Linked DNA regions of Homo sapiens. The protein of the gene in region 1 interacts with the protein of each later gene in a pairwise test. Each region holds a gene or a part of one and is shown on either strand. Other genes may lie near its edges.

Evidence for each region.
Region 2: the proteins of CREB3L1 (region 1) and ANKRD46 interact in binary tests that used the Homo sapiens proteins (3 or more experiments, as listed by UniProt).

What each region holds. Positions count from the first base shown.
Region 1 is NC_000011.10:46,318,594-46,322,470, reverse strand, and holds the end of CREB3L1 (cyclic AMP-responsive element-binding protein 3-like protein 1), read right to left. Parts: intron 2,208-3,877; coding exon 1,943-2,207; intron 1,762-1,942; coding exon 1,725-1,761; coding exon of another isoform or gene 1,574-1,724; 3' UTR 1,062-1,573; downstream 1-1,061.
Region 2 is NC_000008.11:100,521,372-100,525,624, reverse strand, and holds part of ANKRD46 (ankyrin repeat domain-containing protein 46), read left to right. Parts: intron 1-2,853; coding exon 2,854-3,070; 3' UTR 3,071-4,253.

The DNA of each region.
Region 1 (3,877 bases):
GCGTGATGGTCTCTCATCTTCGCAGGTCCCCTCCATGTTCTAGGGGAAGGATTCAACAGGGTGTGTACACCAGTGGATGGGAATCTTAGAGGCTATATTAGAATTCTACCTGCCACACACAGCTAGCAAGTGGCAGCTCCAATACTCAAATGCAGCTCTTCTGACTTAGAAGTCTATGCCTTCAATCCAGCTGAGGCAAAGGATACAAGAACTAAGAAACTGGCAGGTCTTAGGAGGACCAAACTGGGTATAGTATGTGAAGTGTCTAGCACAGTGCCTGGACCACAGTGGAGGCTCCATTCTTGCAGTGGCCATCCCCAAAGGCCAAGATGGTGGCTTTGATACTCTGTCTTGATCCTTGGAGCAGCCCTGAGGTGAGTGAATTGCAGCAGATTCTTTGGCTGTTTGGTTTGAATTCTGCACCTGGCTAGAAGAGAAAGCCCAATAGAAATGCCTTCTTGGCCAGGTGCAGTGGCTGACGCCTGTAATCCCAGCACTTTGGGAGGCTGAGGTGGAAGATTGCTTAAGCCCAGGATTTTGAAACCACAGTGAGTTATGATTGCACCACTGGACTCCAACTTGGGCAATAGAGCGAGATCTTGTCATTCATTCATGTACACATACATACATACATGGGGTTCTCCTTAAATAGGCAGATAAAAAACATTTATCTAAACTATCTTCCTAATCCTCAAATAAAAGCATACACATATAAAAGCTATAAATAAAGCCCAAAGACAGAAGAGGAAATAACAAATCAGTCAACAAAATATTGGAAAATAAAAAGTGAACAGGCTGGGCATGGTGGCTCACGCCTGTAATCCCAGCACTGTGGGAGGCCATGGTGGGCAGACTGAGCCCAGGAGTCTGAGACCAGCCTGGGCAACATAGCGAGACCCTACCTCTACAAAAAAAAAAAAATGCCTTCTCATACTCCTATACCCCCACACCCCCTGCCAGAACATAAAATCAACCTACCCTTGTTGTTCCCCTGCCCTTTGGTTCTACTTTCCCTCCCCTCCAATGAAGAAAGGCACAAAGTCAGGAGTTGATGCTGCATCTTTTTTTTTTTTTTTTTGGTTTTGCTTTCTTAAAGCATGTGCTGAGCTGATGAAGAGAGCAGTTTGGCAATTAAAAAGGCCCAGCGGCTTGGGCAGCAGCAGGGGGGTGCCAGGTGAGGGTCAGGTAGTCCCTCTTTCCTGGGCCAGGGAGCAGCAAAGCCCGCACTAACTTCATAAAATATAAAACAAGGGAGGGGCGAAGGGAAGAGGGAGATTTGTAAAATACAATATCTTAGGGGATTGGCAATAATAAAAAATAAGGTTCATTATTTACAAACAATTTCTGTTCTTGGTCTCTGTACAGTGGGGGTGGGGTAAGGGGTGTCTGTGAGTGGGGTGCGTTGATGTGTCTGTTTGGGTGCAGGTGTGGGGGCAGGGAGGCAGTGGTCGTGTTGGGCATATGAGAGAGGAGGTGGGGTACCCAGTGAGTGGTTTGTCTGAGAAGGACGGATGGATGTTGGTGGGAAGGAGAATGAGAACAGAGTGGTCGGCCCAAGGGAAGAGTCCAAATGTCAGGGGCAAGGAAGGGCTGGGAAGTGGAGCCTTTTCTCCTGGAATGGGAAGCTCCAGGAGGCAGGGGCACGAGGCGGATCCGGGTTAGTGAGCAAGAACTCCTCTTCTGGGTACCAGGGGTCCGTCCTATGTCCTGGGTCTTGGCATGGCCTAGGAGAGTTTGATGGTGGTGTTGGGGCCCAGATCCCTGGAGAGAGAAGAGAGGCCAGCGATGACTGTCCAGCAGGAACCCTCTTACCCTCTGCAAGCTGGATCTAGACCAAGTAGGGATGGGGCCTTGGGAGGGTGTGGCCAATGTGGGGACCAAGGGTGGGCAGGAGGCAGGTGGAGCCTGAGACCTCAGGAGGGAAAGGGGCCACACACCCCACCTGTCGTGGAACCACTCCTTGGAGTGGGAGAAGTCGGGGCTGGTGCCGTTTCCACCGTCTTTAGGCCAGGCCTCACTCAGGTACTTGGTGGTCTCGTGGGTGCTGTCCAGGTGATCATGCTGCAGGTGGTCCCGGGGCCGCTGCTCTGCCGGCCCCCCGGGGTTGATTTCCCAGCCATCTGGGGGCTCCATGGGCAGCAGGGTGCTGCGGCCATCTTCCCATAAGCCTGCCCCGTCATCGTAGAATAGGAGGCTTCGGGAGGGCACTGGAGAGGGAGTGTAGGATGAGCGGTGTGCCCAAGATTCCCTCAACATCCTGGCCACATTCATGGCCTAGTGGTTAAGGACGCAGGCCCTGGATCTGAGTCCCAGCTCTGACACTTCCCGGATGTGTGACCTCAGGTAAGCCACACACTTTGCTTTAAACTTTCTGAGCCTCAGTGTGCTCTTCTGTAAAATAGGGATACTAGGACCAACCTCATGTAAATGAGAGGTTTAAATGAGGTAATACAGGGGAAGTGATTGAAACTGTGTTCAGGAAATACTCAGAAAAGTCACCTCTTCCTAGCAGAGGGTACTGAGTTTGGGCATCTGGGAGCTGTGTTCTAACCTCCACCACTTACTTGCTCTATCTCCCTTTTTTTTTTTTTTGAGACAGAGTCTTGCTCTGTCGCCCAGGCTGGAGTGCAATGGCAGGATCTTGACTCCCTGCAATCTCCGCCTCCCGAGCTCAAGCGACTCTCCTGCCTCAGCCTCCCGAGTAGCTGGGACTACAGGTGTGTGCCACCATACCTGGCTACTTTTTGTATTTTTAGTAGAGACGGGGTTTCACCATGTTGGCCAGGCTGATCTTGAACTCCTGGGCCTCAAGTGATCCTCCCACCTTGGCCTCCCAAAGTGCTGAGATTACCGGAGTGAGTTACCGCACCCGGCCAGTCCACCACTTACTTTCTGTGAGACCTGGAATAAGTCTCTTCCCCATTCTAGATCCTAATTTGCCCTTCAGAGAAGGAAAACAAACATTTGTTGGACACCCATCATTTGTTAGGCATTATCCAAGGCCCATAGACCTAAGTAGAGTGGTTAAAATCTTAGAGAAACTCTAGGGAATGAGGTTTCTTTAGCCCCGCTTCCCAGAGGAGGCAGCTGAAGTTCCAGGCACTCAGGGAAATTGTCCTCCCTGAAGGGAGGATGCGAACCCAGGTCTGCCTGGCCCTGGGATCTGCTGCCCCTCCGGCTCTGCAGCCATGACCTCATAGTCTGTGTGAACAGAGGTCCCTGGAACTGCGCAGTGCGCCAGCTCTGCAAACCAGCCTGCTCCAAAGCCATCTGCCTGCTGGGATGTGTCTTCCTCTCCACCCAGCCCAGGTCCTGGGCCTAAAACCCACTGCCTTCCCTCCAAGGGGCTCATTCATTGCCTCCTCTCACTGTGGCTTTATCCATCAACCCCAGCTCTCTTTCCACTCCTTTTTCTCCAGTGGCTTCTGTGGCCTTGGAAAAGCAGACACATGGCTCTCCAGACCTTGCATTGCTGCTGCCCACCCGCCTTTAGTGACCACCCCGTTCTCTCCTCCTCAGCCTGCACGTGTCCGGGGAGGAGCTTTCACTCTCCCTGTCTCTACTTCCTCTTTCCCTAACCCTCCCCACACCAGCTTCCTCCCCTCAAGGCCCTCAACGTCTAGCTCATCCTCCCTGCTATATCCCTCCTTCTTGAAACTCACTCCTTAATCTTCCCTCCTCTGACCTCCCATCTGTTTCCTCTTCCTCCTCCTGTCCTGCCAGACACGTGGTTCTTGGTAAGTGACTGACTGGTAAGTGATGAGGGACAGCCAGGAAGTTCCTCTGTGGGTCCACCTGAAGGATTCTCTGCGTCTGAAATCCACACTCTTCTTTGCTGGGCCCTACCCTGGTTCTCCCTTTGCCAGCTACTGTGATG
Region 2 (4,253 bases), on another chromosome or scaffold:
TCATCTGTTCATCCAATGGAATATTACTAATATTATTATATTATACTGATACATGCTACAGCATGGATAAATTTTGAAAACATGCTACATTGGAGAAGCCAGGCACAAAAGGCCACATATTACATGATTCTGTTTATGTGAAATGTCCAGAATAAGCAAATCCATAGAGACAGAAAGTAGATGAGAAAGTAGACTAGAAGCTGGGAGAAGGGGCAATGGGAGTGACTGCTAATAGGTACAGAGTTTCTTATAGAGGTGCTGAAAGTGTACTGGAATTAGAAGAGATGGTTGTACAATTTGGGGAATATATGAAAAGCCACTGAATTGTACAGTTTCAAAAGGTAAATATTATGGGATGTGAATTATGTCTCAATAAATGTAGATGAAAAAGTTTAAAGAGATTGGCTAGCACATGGCATTATGGCATAATTGTGTAATGGCTTTTTCTAGAGCAGAAGATAAAGCAGGGTTTTAAATGTATTTACTATAATATTTTCCATTTCTCTTAGGATTCCCCCAAGACAGCACAACTTCTGCAGGCCTTATAAGGGACTATAAATCAAGTTAATGAAAAATATTTCCCCACTCCTCCATATAACTCTAAGTTTAATTCCTTTTTACTTTGTAGGTATGGGATAACAAAAACAGTATAGCTATCACATTTTTTAAAAAAGATACATGCAAACACACCCCCCAAAGACAGTGTAGATATCACGTTTTTAAAAAAAGATTATACACACACCCCATTATGTTAGAATCAGATATTCCCTGGACAGTAGAAAGCATTTCATTGGATAAAGTCTTTATAGAATATCCCGATTGGCAGAGCTTCATGAGCTCTGAAGAACAATGAGAATGCTCATGGAATTTTCATTTTATACCTAACATGTATAAGGGCATGTCAACTCGTAATCAATAAATTTTACATAGGTCAAACTAAGCCTCTGCAGAACTGTGTTATCTATTTGTGGTTTTACTCTTTTAGGCCTTCTCAAAGTTCTAATCTTATTTTTAAACTTGCTGTCAAGTGTTCCAAAATTACTGTGGTGTTGTAGATTCCCACTGAAAACATCATCTCTTATTCAGAGAATAAACATGTTTTAATTATTAAAAAAAAAAAAGTTTGGGTGTTAAGCAGACTGGCCCATTAGGAAGTCAGTTTCCCATGATCAGAGAAGACCTCTAATGTTGGTAAAGGCTGAAGGACTTTTGTTTGATGGTATCAAGAAGTAAAATAAAGTTGTAGGTTAAAAAATGTCAGTTTTGCATGTTTATTCATAGTTCATAATGAATGAGACTCTAAGATACTGTTTTATGGGAGTTAGGAAGGATAGTAATGAACTTTGATAACCAGTAGATAGTTGATTCCTATGATCATGGTTATGGTGGCTTTAATCTAAATGATACCCTCTTATTGGGCCTGTATGTTGTGATATAACCATGAGTGCTCTTCCCTTAGTGCTTCCAAGTACCAAAGTCAGATGCAGTTTCTCTTTGTGGTAGTCGTATTTCTCATTGATAAAGTTCTGAAAACCAGAATCAGTGTTTTTATGGTATTTGCACTACCTTATTTTCAACTAGACTAGCCTTTATGCAGAAGAGAAATGAACATATTCTGTCTTACTGTACAAGATAGAACTAACACCAATAGGAAGAAACTATTAAGAATTCCTAATGACTAGGCCAGCTGTGGTGGCTCATGCCTGTAATCCCAGCACTTTGGGAGGTCAAGGCAGGTGGATCACCTAAACTCAGGAGTTCAAGACCAGCCTGGGCAACATGGCGAAACCCTGTCTCTACCAAAAATACAAAAATTAGCCAGCCATGGTGGCATGCACCTGTAGTCCCAGCTACCTGGGGGGCTGAGGCAGGAGGATTGCTTGAGCTGGGGAGGTGGAGGTTTCAGTGAGCTGAGATCGCATCACTGTATTCCAGCCTGGGCGGCAGAGTGAGATTCTGTCTCCAAAAAAAAAAAAGAATTTCTGATGACTAGACGAGTCCACATGTACAACAGGCTGAGGAGTAACCTTCCATTATTAGAGAATTACAATTAAAGAAGGAATTCCTTCATTGGTCAGATTATTGAACTAAATTAATAAAAATTCCCTTTTAACTTCAAGATTCACACACACTGTATAAGTGACTTTTTAGATTTACTCATCTTCCCCCCTCCCCCCAACAGACATTTACTTTCTCAGTTCTAGGGCCTAGAAGTCTGAGATCAAGGTGTCACAAAGTTGGTTTCTTCTAAGGCCTCTCTGCTTGACTTGTAGATGACTGTCCTCTTCAGGTGTCATCACCTGCATGTCTGCTTATTCGTATTAACACATTCTTAAATTATGAGTCTGCACTTTGAATCTTCTAAATTTAACATAACAAGAATGTGTTGTGGTTTAATATCTTGATGGAGACAACTCATAACCTATTTCAAGACTTCTGCTCAGGACACCTTAAAAAAAAATAGAGATGGTGTCTCGCTATGTTACCCAGGCTGGTCCCGAACTCCTGGGCTCAAGTGATCCTCCCTCCTTGGCCTGCAAAAGTGTCGGGATTACAGGCATGAGCTACCACGCCCAGCCAGGACCTTTTAAATAGAATTTTTAACTTGAGTTTACTAAATTCTAAACCAAGAGAAACATACTCATTACCATTTAGCAATTTACAGTTTAGTATATATTGTTCAGATACGTAAGCATGTAAGAGTGTGTATATATATATATGTGTGTGTGTGTGTGTGTGTGTGTGTGTGTGTGTGTGTGTATTTGGTCTTTTCTAAATAGTAGCCCTGTGGTTTTATGTTTTTGGAATTGCTGTGTTTTTTTAATGCCCTTTTTGCTCTTTCTTCTTCCACAGTGCCATGGAAAGCCATTCACTCCTCAATCCCAACCTGCAGCAAGGTGAAGGAGTCCTCTCCAGCTTCCGAACCACGTGGCAGGAGTTTGTGGAGGATCTGGGCTTCTGGAGAGTATTGCTGTTGATCTTCGTCATTGCTTTGCTGTCTCTTGGCATTGCTTATTATGTGAGTGGGGTGCTACCCTTCGTGGAAAACCAGCCTGAACTGGTGCATTAAAGGAGCTCATGGAAGATGAGGCAATTAATTGCCTGTTTCCTGGCTTCCAATGTTTGTTCTCAGTTTCTCAGAATTTTTCTTAGCGCAAAGCAGTGAGGGCAGTACATGTTCTTTTTGCATTTTTAATTATTGTAATCCTTTTAGATAATGATGTGTTCATTTGAACTAACTACATACTATGATCAAGTATATTGCATCCTAACGCTACCTCTGACTCAACCTGACTTTGTAGGAAAGCCTACACGTAGCCTTGTTTGATAAAAACACGGAAGTGACTAGAGAATGGAAGATAAAGGAAGAAGCTAGGAAGTCCTTGCTATCAAAACCTTATCCTAATATAGGACCAATTGAAGTATTCAAAAAGAAAAACAGTATCTTATATGATTAGTTTTTGTTGGTGGTTTTGTTTTCATTTATTTTTGCAAGAGCCACTTTTTATTTACTTTCTCTAGGGATAAGAGATAAAACTTGAAGTACTTTTTTCAAATCTTGTGTGCAAATTAGTATTGTTAGCATCTATTTGGCTTATTTTAGTATTTTTAAGTCTAGTCACAAACCAAACAAAACTTTTGAAAATGAGCTATATTTTGTTCAAAGATAATTGATTTGATCTTATATTTATTTGTTTTTAGGATAATTTTTGATCTTTTTGTAAACTGCTTTGCTTGTTAATATCTGTGAAAAATAAATGAGTTCATTTTGTTCACTTTCCAATTTTCCCGAGTATCCTAGTCATCAAAGATAACAGTTCATCAGAATTACAGTCAGAAAATCCTTTTTCTACTGAATAGTTAGCAGGGAAAAATAATTCTGATATTTAACTGTCATAATTCTGTAGTGCTATTATAGTGAAAAACTCAGTTCTATAAGCTAGCTGTGTTGTCACAGTTTTATCATAGTTCATAATTATTTCATGTGCAATCCTATTTGGAGGCCCTGTTAGACTTTTAACAATCCCATCCATATCTGTAATTCTCTGATGGCAAGAATGGATGGAGCATTTCTGAGTTAACAGTGCTGGACAGTATCGTACTGGGTGTCATAAACTCTTTATGAATGGTAATATTATGTAAATTGAAATCTGGCCCTCAAACTATATTGCAGCTTTCAGCAGTATGTTTGAAGGCCTCTTTTGTTAATGATTCTGTAATGTATGAATTATGTTCTTGAGTGGTTAAAAAAG